2 linked regions of the Homo sapiens genome follow. The protein of the gene in region 1 interacts with the protein of each later gene in a pairwise test. Each region holds a gene or a part of one and is shown on either strand. Other genes may lie near its edges.

Region 1 (5,734 bases):
AATCTAACAAGGCAGGCCAACATTCAGATTCAGGAAATACAGAGAACACCACAAAGATACTCCTCGAGAAGAGCAACTCCAAGACACATAATTATCAGATTCACCAAAGTTGAAATGAAGGAAAAAATGCTAAGGGCAGCCAGAGAGAAAGGTCGGGTTACCCACGAAGGGAAGCCCATCAGACTAACAGCGGATCTCTCGGCAGAAACTCTACAAGCCAGAAGAGAGTGGGGGCCAATATTCAACATTCTTAAAGAAAAGAATTTTCAACCCAGAATTTCATATCCAGCCAAACTAAGCTTCATAAGTGAAGGAGAAATAAGATACTTTACAGACAAGCAAATGCTGAGAGATTTTGTTGCTACCAGGCCTGCCCTAAAAGAGCTCCTGAAGGAAACACTAAATATGGAAAGGAACAACCGGTACCAGCCACTGCAAAATCATGCCAAATTGTAAAGACCATCGAGACTAGGAAGAAACTGCATCAACTAACGAGCAAAATCACCAGCTAACATCATAATGACAGGATCAAATTCACACATAACAATATTAACTTTAAATGTAAATGGACTAAATGCTCCAATTAAAAGACACAGACTGGCAAATTGGATAAAGAGTCAAGACCCATCAGTGTGCTGTATTCAGGAAACCCATCTCACGTGCAGAGACACACATAGGCTCAAAATAAAAGGATGGAGGAAGATCTACCAAGCAAACGGAAAACAAAAAAAGGCAGGGGTTGCAATCCTAGTCTCTGATAAAACAGACTTTAAACCAACAAAGATCAAAAGAGACAAAGAAGGCCATTACATAATGATAAAGGGATCAATTCAACAACAAGAGCTAACTATCCTAAATATATATGCACCCAATACAGAAGCACCCAGATTCATAAAGCAAATCCTGAGTGACCTACAAAGAGACTTAGACTCCCACACAATAATAATGGGAGACTTTAACACCCCACTGTCAACATTAGACAGATCAACGAGACAGAAAGTTAACAAGGATATCCAGGAATTGAACTCAGCTCTGCACCAAGCAGACCTAATAGACATCTACAGAACTCTCCACCCCAAATCAACAGAATATACATTTTTTTCAGCACCACACCACACCTATTCCAAAATTGACCACATAGTTGGAAGTAAAGCTCTCCTCAGCAAATGTAAAAGAACAGAAATTATAACAAACTGTCTCTCAGACCACAGTGCAATCAAACTAGAACTCAGGATTAAGAAACTCACTCAAAACCGCTCAACTACATGGAAACTGAACAAAAATGACTACTGGGTACATAATGAAATGAAGGCAGAAATAAAGATGTTCTTTGAAACCAACAAGAACAAAGACACAACATACCAGAATCTCTGGGACACATTCAAAGCAGTGTGTAGAGGGAAATTTATAGCACTAAATGCCCACAAGAGAAAGCAGGAAAGATCCAAAATTGATACCCTAACATCACAATTAAAAGAACCAGAAAAGCAAGAGCAAACACATTCAAAAGCTAGCAGAAGGCAAGAAATAACTAAAATCAGAGCAGAACTGAAGGAAATAGAGACACAAAAAACCCTTCAAAAAATTAATGAATCCAGGAGCTGGTTTTTTGAAAGGATCAACAAAATTGATAGACCGCTAGCAAGACTAATAAAGAAGAAAAGAGAGAAGAATCAAATAGACCCAATAAAAAATGATAAAGGGGATATCACCACCGATCCCACAGAAATACAAACTACCATCAGAGAATACTACAAACACCTCTACACAAATAAACTAGAAAATCTAGAAGAAATGGATAAATTCCTCGACACATACACTCTCCCAAGACTAAACCAGGAAGAAGTTGAATCTCTGAATAGACCAATAACAGGCTCTGAAATTGTGGCAATAATCAATAGCTTACCAACCAAAAAGAGTCCAGGACCAGATGGATTCACAGCCGAATTCTACCACAGGTACAAGGAGGAACTGGTACCATTCCTTCTGAAACTATTCCAATCAATAGAAAAAGAGGGAATCCTCCCTAACTCATTTGATGAGGCCAGCATCATCCTGATACCAAAGCCGGGCAGAGACTCAACCAAGAAAGAGAATTTTAGACCAATATCCTTGATGAACATTGATGCAAAAATCCTCAATAAAATACTGGCAAACCGAATCCAGCAGCACATCAAAAAGCTTATCCACCATGATCAAGTGGGCTTCATCCCTGGGATGCAAGTCTGGTTCAATATACGCAAATGAATAAATGTAATCCAGCATATAAACAGAACCAAAGACAAAAACCACATGATTATCTCAATAGATGCAGAAAAGGCCTTTGACACAATTCAACAACCCTTCATGCTAAAAACTCTCAATAAATTAGGTATTGATGGGATGTATCTCAAAATAATAAGAGCTATCTATGACAGACCCACAGCCAATATCACACTGAATGGGCAAAAACTGGAAGCATTCCCTTTGAAAACTGGCACAAGACAGGGATGCCCTCTCTCACCACTCCTATTCAACATAGTGTTGGAAGTTCTGGCCAGGGCGATTAGGCAGGAGAAGGAAATAAAGGGTATTCAATTAGGAAAAGAGGAAGTCAAATTGTCCCTGTTTGCAGATGACATGATTGTATATCTAGAAAACCCCATTGTGTCAGCCCAAAGTCTCCTTAAGCTGATAAGCAACTTCAGCAACGTCTCAGGATACGAAATCAATGTACAAAAATCACAAGCAATCTTATACACCAATAACAGACAAACAGAGAGCCAAATCATGAGTGAACTCCCATTCACAATTACTTCAAAGAGAATAAAATACCTAGGAATCCACCTTACAAGGGACGTGAAGGACCTCTTCAAGGAGAACTACAAACCACTGCTCAATGAAATAAAAGAGGATACAAAGAAATGGAAGAGCAATGTATTTTTAAAAAGCAATGTTGTCCCACAGCCTTTCCTATGTTTGATGTTCCTAGACTTGTTGTTTAATTTTTTGCCGATCTACTGGCATTAAATGATATCATAAATATGATTTAGATAATAAATAATATCATAAATATTATTTAGGTATTAAATGGTGTCTTAGTGTTGTTCTTAGTATTTTTTCAGTGGCCATCTATCACTTATTACTTGGTTTAATTTCAAAAATTAATATATATTCTTATTGTATTGGAATACTGAATAGGTTTCATATAGGAAACATGAAACTCAGATTGCTTGAGGGATAACTACTGTGCACATTGTGGTGCATTCGGAATCTTCCAGTCTTTTCTTCTTGGCACATGTAGTTATCTACACTGTGGTCATACCACATATACACCTTTATATTCTGCCTTTTTCATTTTAACTGTTTTTTTTTCTTTTTTTGGACACAAGATCTTGCTCTGTCACCCAGGCTTTAGTACAGTGGCTCAGTGATGGTGTACTGCAGCCTCAAACACCCAGGCTCAAGAGATCTTCCCACTTCAACCTCTAGAGTAGCTGTGACTACAAGTGCACACCACCATGCTCAGCTAATTTTTTGTAGAGATGGGATCTTGCTGTGTTGCCCAGGCTGGCCTCGAGCTCCTGGCCTCAAACAGTTCTCCCATTTCAGCCTCCCAAAATGTTGGGATTACAGGTGTGAGCCAGTGCGCCTGGCCTCATTTAACATTTTATCATGAAAACTTCCTGTGTCATTAAATACTATGTAAAGACATGACTTTCAATGGCTGCTTACTTTTCTATTATATGGATGTGCCTAAACTTAGGCAATCATTGGTTGTTACATTTTTCTTTTTTGCTGTTATATCTAATGCTGAACATCTTTGTACTATATCCGTGTTACATTTATAAGGTGAAGGACGTTGGAAAATATGTGGTTAGTTCTTGAATGTGCTGCCCTTTTTAAAGCATACATGTTAAGTATCCATACAGGCAGGGTTGTGGGGAAGCACTGTCTACAGCCGGTGCAATATGCATCTGATGGGTTAGAGCCTTCAGCTGAGAGTCCCAGTAGCACTTACCTTGCTCTTTCTCTCTACACAGTCTTATTGTTACAGGTATCGCTGTGCTGCTCGGAGCCAGAACACACCTGATAGCTCTGCTTCGAATCTGGGATTCCGCTGTGCAGCCGACCGCCTGCCCACTATGGACTGACAACCAAGGAAAGTCTTCCCCAGTCCAAGGAGCAGTCGTGTCTGACCTACATTGGGCTTTTCTCAGAACTTTGAACGATCCCATGCAAAGAATTCCCACCCTGAGGTGGGTTACATACCTGCCCAATGGCCAAAGGAACCGCCTTGTGAGACCAAATTGCTGACCTGGGTCAGTGCATGTGCTTTATGGTGTGGTGCATCTTTGGAGATCATCACCATATTTTACTTTTGAGAGTCTTTAAAGAGGAAGGGGAGTGGAGGGAACCCTGAGCTAGGCTTCAGGAGGCCCGCGTCCTACGCAGGCTCTGCCACAGGGGTTAGACCCCAGGTCCGACGCTTGACCTTCCTGGGCCTCAAGTGCCCTCCCCTATCAAATGAAGGGATGGACAGCATGACCTCTGGGTGTCTCTCCAACTCACCAGTTCTAAAAAGGGTATCAGATTCTATTGTGACTTCATAGTGAGAATTTATTATAGATTATTTTTTAGCTATTTTTTCCATGTGTGAACCTTGAGTGATACTAATCATGTAAAGTAAGAGTTCTCTTATGTATTATTTTCGGAAGAGGGGTGTGGTGACTCCTTTATATTCGTACTGCACTTTGTTTTTCCAAGGAAATCAGTGTCTTTTACGTTGTTATGATGAATCCCACATGGGGCCGGTGATGGTATGCTGAAGTTCAGCCGTTGAACACATAGGAATGTCTGTGGGGTGACTCTACTGTGCTTTATCTTTTAACATTAAGTGCCTTTGGTTCAGAGGGGCAGTCATAAGCTCTGTTTCCCCCTCTCCCCAAAGCCTTCAGCGAACGTGAAATGTGCGCTAAACGGGGAAACCTGTTTAATTCTAGATATAGGGAAAAAGGAACGAGGACCTTGAATGAGCTATATTCAGGGTATCCGGTATTTTGTAATAGGGAATAGGAAACCTTGTTGGCTGTGGAATATCCGATGCTTTGAATCATGCACTGTGTTGAATAAACGTATCTGCTAAATCAGGCTTCACCGTCATCAGCTTCTTTTCTCTTTCTCTTCTTTATGTTTTCTTTTAAAGAGAGGACTTTGTGATATGCGTGTTTTATTTGCTAGAAAACGTTCATGTTTGTTAGCTAATGGATAACTTTGATATGTGGGTAATTTGTGGGAATTTTTGTTCCAAAAAGCAAGGCTATTCCACCAGTAACCCTATCATGACCTTGCTGCTTGTTGCCACAGTAGATAATGCCAAGTCAAAGGCACTGCCTCACTTGTGGTCTTGTAAAACCCAGCATTTGCTTCCCATGCCGGGAAAGCACCTTGTTTTAGAACAATAGCTTTCAACCTAAGGTCCCTGTTATCAAGTTCCCATCCTGATTCCTCAGTCCTGAGAACCCCTAAGCCATTTCTTGCATGCCATTTGAAAGAAATGTTTAAATCAAATAATATTCAAAAGTGTCTAACCAACACTTGAATGCTACTTTTGTGCTTAGCCTCTTAACATGTTAAAACAATTCCCTTGAAAAGCAGTCATGTAGGCCAGGCCCAGTGGCTCACACCTGTAACCCCAGCACTTTGGGAGGCCAAGGTGGGTAGATCACTCAAGGTCAGGAGTTCGAGATTAGCT
Region 2 (7,370 bases), on another chromosome or scaffold:
GCGAAATGCTATCGTGACAGAGCACTCCATTACCTAGGAGGCATGACACCCGAGTGGGTACATCAGGCAAGCATGGTATCAGAGGGCATGTTAGCAGGTCTCATACTTGGTGGGTATGTTAGCAGGCAGGCATGTATCCAGAAGACCCCATACCCACTGGGTATGTTAGCAAGAAGGCATGGTACCTAGTAGGCACAATACCTGGTGGGTATATCAGCAAGCAGGCAGGGTGCCCAGGCAGGCCTGATACCCAGTGGGTATGTTGGCAGGTGAGCATGGTATGGAGGCTGGACTGATTGATAGATGGTGGGTATGTTGGCAGGTGAGCATGGTATGGAGGCTGGACTGATAGATGGTGGGTATAAGCAGGTAGGCATGGTACCCAGGCAGGCCTGATACCAGTGGGTATGTTAGCAGGTAGACTGGTATCCAGCAGGGATGATGCGTGGTTGGTATGTTAGCAGGCAGGCATGGTATCCAAGTGGGCATGATAAGCAGGCATCATACCACAATAAGCTTGATGATACCCTAAGCAGGCATGATACCCGGTGGGTATGTTGGCAGGTGGGCATGGTACACAGGCTGGACTGATAGCTGGTGGGTATAAGCAGATGGGCATGGTACCCAGGCAAGCCTGGTACCTGCATAGGCATGTTAGCAGGCAGGCATGGTACCCAAGTGGGCAAGATACTCATGCAGGCATGATGACCCAACAAGCTTGATGATACCCCAGCAGGCATGCTACCTGGGTGGGCGTGTTAGCCGGCTAGGCATTTAGGCAGACAGCGGCTGAGCGCATGGCCACAGAACTGCTGGGCAATTCTGGGCTCAGCGGAAACCGCATGGGGCAGAGGGCAGGAGAGCCTCGCCCAGGGCGCGTCTAAAGCTCTATGTGTGTGCGTCCCACCGCTGCTTCTCACTGATGCCATCTCAAAGGCCTAGTGACCTTGCAGGTTGTCTATTTCAACCCTTTCATCCTACACAAAGCAGCTGAGGCCCAGAAAGGTGAGGTGCAGTGCCCAGGGCCACACACTGGGCAGCAGGAAACAGGGACAGGCCGCTGAACTCCTACAACCACACCAAGCTTCTTCCCCCTGCTCTGGAGTAGAGGACACTGGGGGCACCACAGGAGAGGCTGGTGGGAACCCCCAGACCAACACTTTCCCCAGCTCCCTCAGAGGCAATGTGGTCCATGGATGGACAGAGGAGGCTGGGCACCTTCCAGTTGGGCTTCCATCCTCCACCCCACAGTACCCACAGGTGTGAGCACATGGCAGCCACGTAAACCTGGAGGGAGAGCGGGATGGGCTGTGCTCCGTACCCGCAGGCCAGGAAGAAAGCTGCCCTTCTCCAAACCCAGAGTGTCTCGGCACTTGGCTGTGGGCCTGCTATGGTCTGAACTGTGTCCTCCCAGAATTCATATGCTGAAGCCCTAACGTCAACATCACTGTATCTGGAGACAGGGTCCTTAATTAAGGGTAAATGAATCATAAGGATGAGATCCTGATCTGACAGGACTGTGGACTTAAAGGAAAAGAAAGAGAGGGCCGGGTGCAGTGTTTCATGCCCGTAAGCCCAGCACCCGGGAGGCCAAGGCAGGAAGATTGCTTGAGCCCAGGAGTTCGAGACCAGTCTGGGCAACACAGTGAGACCTTGTCTCTACAAAAAATACAAAAATTAGCCAGGCATGGTGATGTGCACTTGAGGTCCCAGCTACTTGGGAGGCTGAGGCAGGAGGATCGCTTGAGCCTGGGAGATTGAGGCTGCAGTGAGCTGTGATTGTGCTACTGTGCTCCAGCCTGGGTGACAGAGTGAGACCCTGTCTCACAAAAAAAAAAAAAAAAAAAAAAAAAGGAAAGAAAGGAAAAAGAAAGGAAAAGGAAGTGAGACCACCCCCATCCGCTTGTCATGTGAGGAAACAGTGAGAGGGTGACCACCTGTAAGCCGAAAGTGGACCCTCACTGGAACCCAACCAAGCTGGCACCCTGACCTTGGATTTTCAGCCCACAGAACTGTGAGAAATACATTTCTGTTTAAGCCGATCCATGGCAGTCCGTGCTAAGAAAGGCCCTAGCCCAGGGGCCGCATAGCCTGGACTCTGACAGCCTCCTGTAGGAATTCTGATCCGCAGGTGAGGGTCCATGCAGATTCTCTGCTGTGTTTCTGGGAGGCGAGGAGTTGGCAGGAGAGCTGTTTATGTTACAGTGAGCCGAACCCCCGCCCAGAGACCACAAAATTAATCAGAAAGAGGGCAACTGGCAGGGCGCCAGACCTCAGAAGGGGAAAGAATCGCAGGCCTTGGGTTTGGCCTTGTCACTTGTCATGAGCCAGAGCCTTGATTACCTAAACCGGAAGTCTTGTGAGCAGCACGGTGCTTGCTCTGGAGGAACCTGGGGTTTCTGAGAGGGACTGGGGTTGGGGGAGACGGTGGTGGGTGGGTGGTGGAGGGCTGTGCCCTTGGGATAAGGGAAAAGACAGCTGAGACACAGGCTCTGGGGTCGGAAATGAGAGCCAGGAGGGCACCCTGTCTGCAGTCTCTGGGGACCGGAGCACCAGCCCCTCCTCTGGGATCCCCTCCCAAGAGGGATTTGAGATCCGTGGACCCCTGAGCCCTGGCTGGGCAGGGTCAGAGGAGGGTGGGACAGGCGGCACGAGGTAAGTGTAGGGGTGCTGGATGCTGGGGCTCACTCCTCCAGCCTTTGCTGCCCTCTCTGGGGAGACACCCGTGAAGAGTCTGGGGGCGGCACAGAGAGGAGGACGAGAGGGAATGGCAGCGGGGGATACAAGGGCAGGGCACACTAGGGTCAGCATTGACCACGGGTGGGGAGGAGGCCAGTGGCCACTTCCCCGGGCCACCGCAGGTGGGCGTGGGGGGGCGGCGCCGGCACTCACCGAGGAGCAGCAGTGCGTTCCGGGGACGCGCCCGGCAGAGCCCCAGGACTAGCAGCAGCGCGCAGCAGGCGGGCACGGGGCAGCTCATGGCGGCGGCGGCTCGGACTCGGGATCGGGATCCGGCTCCGGCTCTCTGGTCTCCCGCTCGGCCCCGCCCCCTGCCCCGACCCCGGTCACGTGCGCGCCAGACCCCGCCCCGGCCTGTCCCCGGCGATTCCTGCGGACCCAGCTGCGGCGACGCCAGGAGACCCCAAGCTGCATCGCCGAGTGGGTGAGTCCGTGGCCCGCGAGGGCGGCGAGCGGGGACCAGGGGCAGGGGGAGCGGACAGTGGCCGGGGTCGCCGGGGGCAGCCGACGCGGGGGCCAGCGCGGAGTCCTGAAGTGCGGGGGCCTCCCGTGGGGACCACTCCCCCGCCGCGTCCCTACCCGGGTCCCCGCGGCCCTCGGCCTTGCTCGGGGCCAAGGGACCGCGGACGGTCAGGTGGCGCAGGGTCTCCTCCGGAGACCCCAGGATCCGGAGCCAGCGGCCTTGTGGGCGGGGCCGGGGGCCGGGGAGTGGATTTTGCCCGGAGCGGAGCGGCCGGGGGCGTGGGGGGCTGGGGGTGAGGGTGGCGGCTCTGCGCGCGGGCGCCGGGGCCCTGGAAGATGCTGCGCACCTGAATTAACCGGGCGCCTCTGATGTCCTCCCAGAAGCAACTAGAACTCCAGGGCTGTGAAAGCCACAGGTGGGGGCTGAGCGAGGCGTGGCCTCAGGAGCGGAGGACCCCCCCACTCTCCCTCGAGCGCCGCAGTCCACCGTAGCGGGTGGAGCCCGCCTTGGTGCGCAGTTGGAAAACCTCGGAGCCCCGCTGGATCTCCTGGCTGCCACCCGCACCCCCCGCCAGCCTACGGTGCGCCCGCGGGCCCAGCTTCTCTCTGCGCTGCTCCCCGTTAAATTCCCTGGGGAGACGGAAAAAAAGGCAAAGGAAGTCGGTTCTCCAGGGGCCAGAAGTGTTGAGCCTAATTAGTCTTCAGACTTCTCAATGAGGAATCGCTTATCAGTTTCTTATCTGGGAGAGTTGAGGATGGAGGGACAGAAGGCACCCAGGATTTGCACGGGGGGGATTCAGGGAGAGAGGGTGATGAGGGACGGGGTGGGCCTTCCAGTCTTGGCCCAGTCCCCATCTTGCACACATTGTTGGCTTCCTCTTAGAGCCGTTCGCCCCCCTGGGGAGGGGAGACCCATAGTGACCTCTCCTGACACCCGCCGACCCTGACCAGTGTTGCCGGGTTCTTCAAAGGCCACGCTCTGACTGCTGGTCTGTGTCACCTGCACCCCCCAGCCCCACCGTAGAGATGCCTTCTTCGGTGACGGCGCTGGGTCAGGCCAGGTCCTCTGGCCCCGGGATGGCCCCGAGCGCCTGCTGCTGCTCCCCTGCGGCCCTGCAGAGGAGGCTGCCCATCCTGGCGTGGCTGCCCAGCTACTCCCTGCAGTGGCTGAAGATGGATTTCGTCGCCGGCCTCTCAGTTGGCCTCACTGCCATTCCCCAGGCGCTGGCCTATGCTGAAGTGGCTGGACTCCCGCCCCAGGTGAGGCGTCTGACCCTGCTGCCAGCCATATCTCAGAAACAGTGCAGAATACACAGTATCAATCCCAGACACCATCAGCGATTCCAGGTTTCCAGCCCCTGGGCCCCAAGGAACCTTTGGTTTACAGTGTGTGACGCAGATTGTCTCTGGGCCGACCCAGGCTCCTATGCCTGTTTGGCACACACAGACACTGAGCTGGTTATGGAGGGGCCAGCGAGATGACTCATGGAGGCCTCAGGAGTTCAAGACCAGCCCGACCAAAATGGTGAAACCCCGTCTCCACTAAAAATACAAAAATTAGGCTGGGTGCGGTGGCTCAAGCCTGTAATCCCAGCACTTTGGGAGGCCGAGGCAGGCGGATCGCAAGGTCAGGAGATGGAGACCATCCTGGCTAACAGGGTGAAACCCCGTCTCTACTAAAAATACAAAAAATTAGCCAGGTGTGGTGGCGGGTGCCTGTAGTCCCAGCTACCTGGGAGGCTGAGGCAGGAGAATGGCGTGAACCCGGGAGGCGGAGCTTGCAGTGAGCCGAGACTGTGCCACTGCCCTCCAGCCTGGGCGACAGAGCGAGACTCCATCTCAAAAAAAAAAAAAAAGAATGCTTCCTCAGACTTGGACACAGCACACGGGCCTGCACCGACCCCTCTGCCTGGCTGTCTGCACCCTGAGGCCCCAGTTGAGTGCTGCTAAAAAAGTGGCCTCCTGATCACTGCAGGTCCACCCACAGGGCAGGGCGGTGCACCTTTAACCTGGGCCTGGACACAGCTGACACCCACACATCCCGAGCTTGGACACGCACACTAGGGAGCTGGTGGATGGGCCTCGGCCTCCTGAGTGCTCACCACCCTCTCTCCCCACAGTATGGCCTCTACTCTGCCTTCATGGGCTGCTTCGTGTATTTCTTCCTGGGCACCTCCCGGGATGTGACTCTGGGCCCCACCGCCATTATGTCCCTCCTGGTCTCCTTCTACACCTTCCATGAGCCCGCCTACGCTGTGCTGCTGGCCTTCCTGTCCGGCTGCATCCAGCTGGCCATGGGGGTCCTGCGTTTGGGTGAGGCTCTACCTTCTTGCCAAGGGGATGCCCTCGACCTCAGCATTTGCTTGTTTGCATTTCAAGTCTATCCCCGTGTGCGTGTGTGTGCGTGTTGGGGTGTGGGTATGTATGTGTGTGTGTGTAGGTGGGTGGGTGGTGGAGGGGGTGGGGCACTTGGCTCTTAGTCTACTCTTTTCTGCTTAGAGGCCAGGACACTTGGAGAAGTGCCTGTGGCCTCAGACCCCAGTCTCCCTTTTCTGCTCTCCAAAAACAGCCAAACAGGGTGTGTTACCCCCAGTCCTTAGCTGCGGTATCTGCTCCCCAATCCCACCCATTGCCACCTTCCCCAGCTCACATCTCCCCTCATCCTCTGGGACTGGGTGGAGCCGGGACCAGCTCGATGTCCCCTCTTGGCTGGCCAGGGTTCCTGCTGGACTTCATTTCCTACCCCGTCATTAAAGGCTTCACCTCTGCTGCTGCCGTCACCATCGGCTTTGGACAGATCAAGGTAGGCACGGCGCCCACCCAGGGCACTGCTCTTTGGCCACTGCTCGTTGGCACAGGGATGGCGGGAGCAGGACTGAGGCCAGTCCTGATCCCTGTGGCCAGTGGACGTCTTGCTGTTTCAGATTGTCTTCCATGGGTCAAGAAGCACGCGGTGCTCTCATGGGTCCCCTGTTAATAAAATGACCCTCCTGGGAGGGATGTCACGTGATGGTTGGATTTCACAGCGGGTAACTTGGGGGCCGGTAATTCCATCCCCCTGCTCTTGCCCGAGTTTCCGTGCCAGTGTGCTTGGCTGGCTCTGTGACGTGGCTCTGTTCTCCCTGCACTGGGCACACCCAGCAGGCCCCACCAGTCATGAGCATGCTGCTAGAATTTCTATAGGCAAATTATTTCCCCATGCCAATTTAGTTAGATGGTTTTGTTTTGTGCTTTTTTTTCTGGTTTCTGTTTAATATTTTTTAAATGCCATGCCTTTTATATTTTCTTTTAAAACATTTATAATAAGTACTAAAATCAGTCATCAGCTGAGGGTGTAATTTATTCTGTTTTTGCTGGGTTGTAAGTTCCTCGAGGGTAGGAACTGTCCTTCTCCCAGCCATGGCCGCCCAGCATTGGGCTGGTGCAGTAGGGGGGTGCTCAGTGGGGTGTGTGTGGAGTGAAGTGAGCCCAATTCCACAGATGGGACCATGCGGCCCTCATGGCAGACTAGGGTCACATGCTGCCTCCTGACCCTGTGTCACTGCAGGTCATCTTCCCCAAGCCAGGCCCTGTTCCAGGCTGGCCTGAGACAGTCTTCCCTGATGGAGGTACCATGAGAAGACCAAGGACAGGAGAGTGTGTGTGAGAGTGTGTATGAGTGTGTGTGAGTGTGTGAATGAGTGAGTGTGTGAGAGTGTGAGTGGGTTTGAGGGAGTGTGTGAGTGTGTGCGTGTGTGAGTGAGTGCGTGTGTGAGTGAGTGTGCGTGTGTGTGTGAGAGAGTGTGAGTGTGTATGAGTGAGAGTGTGAGAGTGGGTGTGGGTGTGAGGGAGTGTGAGTGCGCGCGCGCGTGTGTGAGTGTATGAGTGTGAGAGTGAGTGTGAGTGAGTGAGAGTGGGTGTGGGTGTGAGAGTGTGAGTGTGAGAGTGTGAGTGTGTGAGTGTGAGAATAAAGTAGACACTTTTTGCACTCTTGCTACGTGCGAGGCACTGGGCAGGACACTCTCCATGTGTAATTCTCAACACACCCCGGGAGGTAGATTTATCATTATTTCCATTTGAGAGAGGAGGGACCAACTTAGGTGTGGGTGAGCGTGATTTGTACGTTATCTACACGCATCTCTCAGGGTTAGCTTGGCAAATGCTGTTTCAGGGCATGGTTGGTTCTTTAA

Evidence for each region.
Region 2: the proteins of SUMF1 (region 1) and SGSH interact in binary tests that used the Homo sapiens proteins (3 or more experiments, as listed by UniProt).

The regions. Positions count from the first base shown.
Region 1 is NC_000003.12:4,360,543-4,366,276, reverse strand, and holds the end of SUMF1 (formylglycine-generating enzyme isoform 1 precursor), read left to right. Parts: intron 1-4,022; coding exon 4,023-4,133; 3' UTR 4,134-5,131; downstream 5,132-5,734.
Region 2 is NC_000017.11:80,217,334-80,224,703, forward strand, and holds the start of SGSH (N-sulphoglucosamine sulphohydrolase isoform 1 precursor), read right to left. Parts: upstream 3,001-7,370; 5' UTR 2,981-3,000; coding exon 2,893-2,980; intron 1-2,892. Other genes in the region: SLC26A11 (sodium-independent sulfate anion transporter), read left to right, coding at 4,228-4,461, 5,322-5,514, 5,847-6,004. UniProt on the Homo sapiens protein: Catalyzes a step in lysosomal heparan sulfate degradation.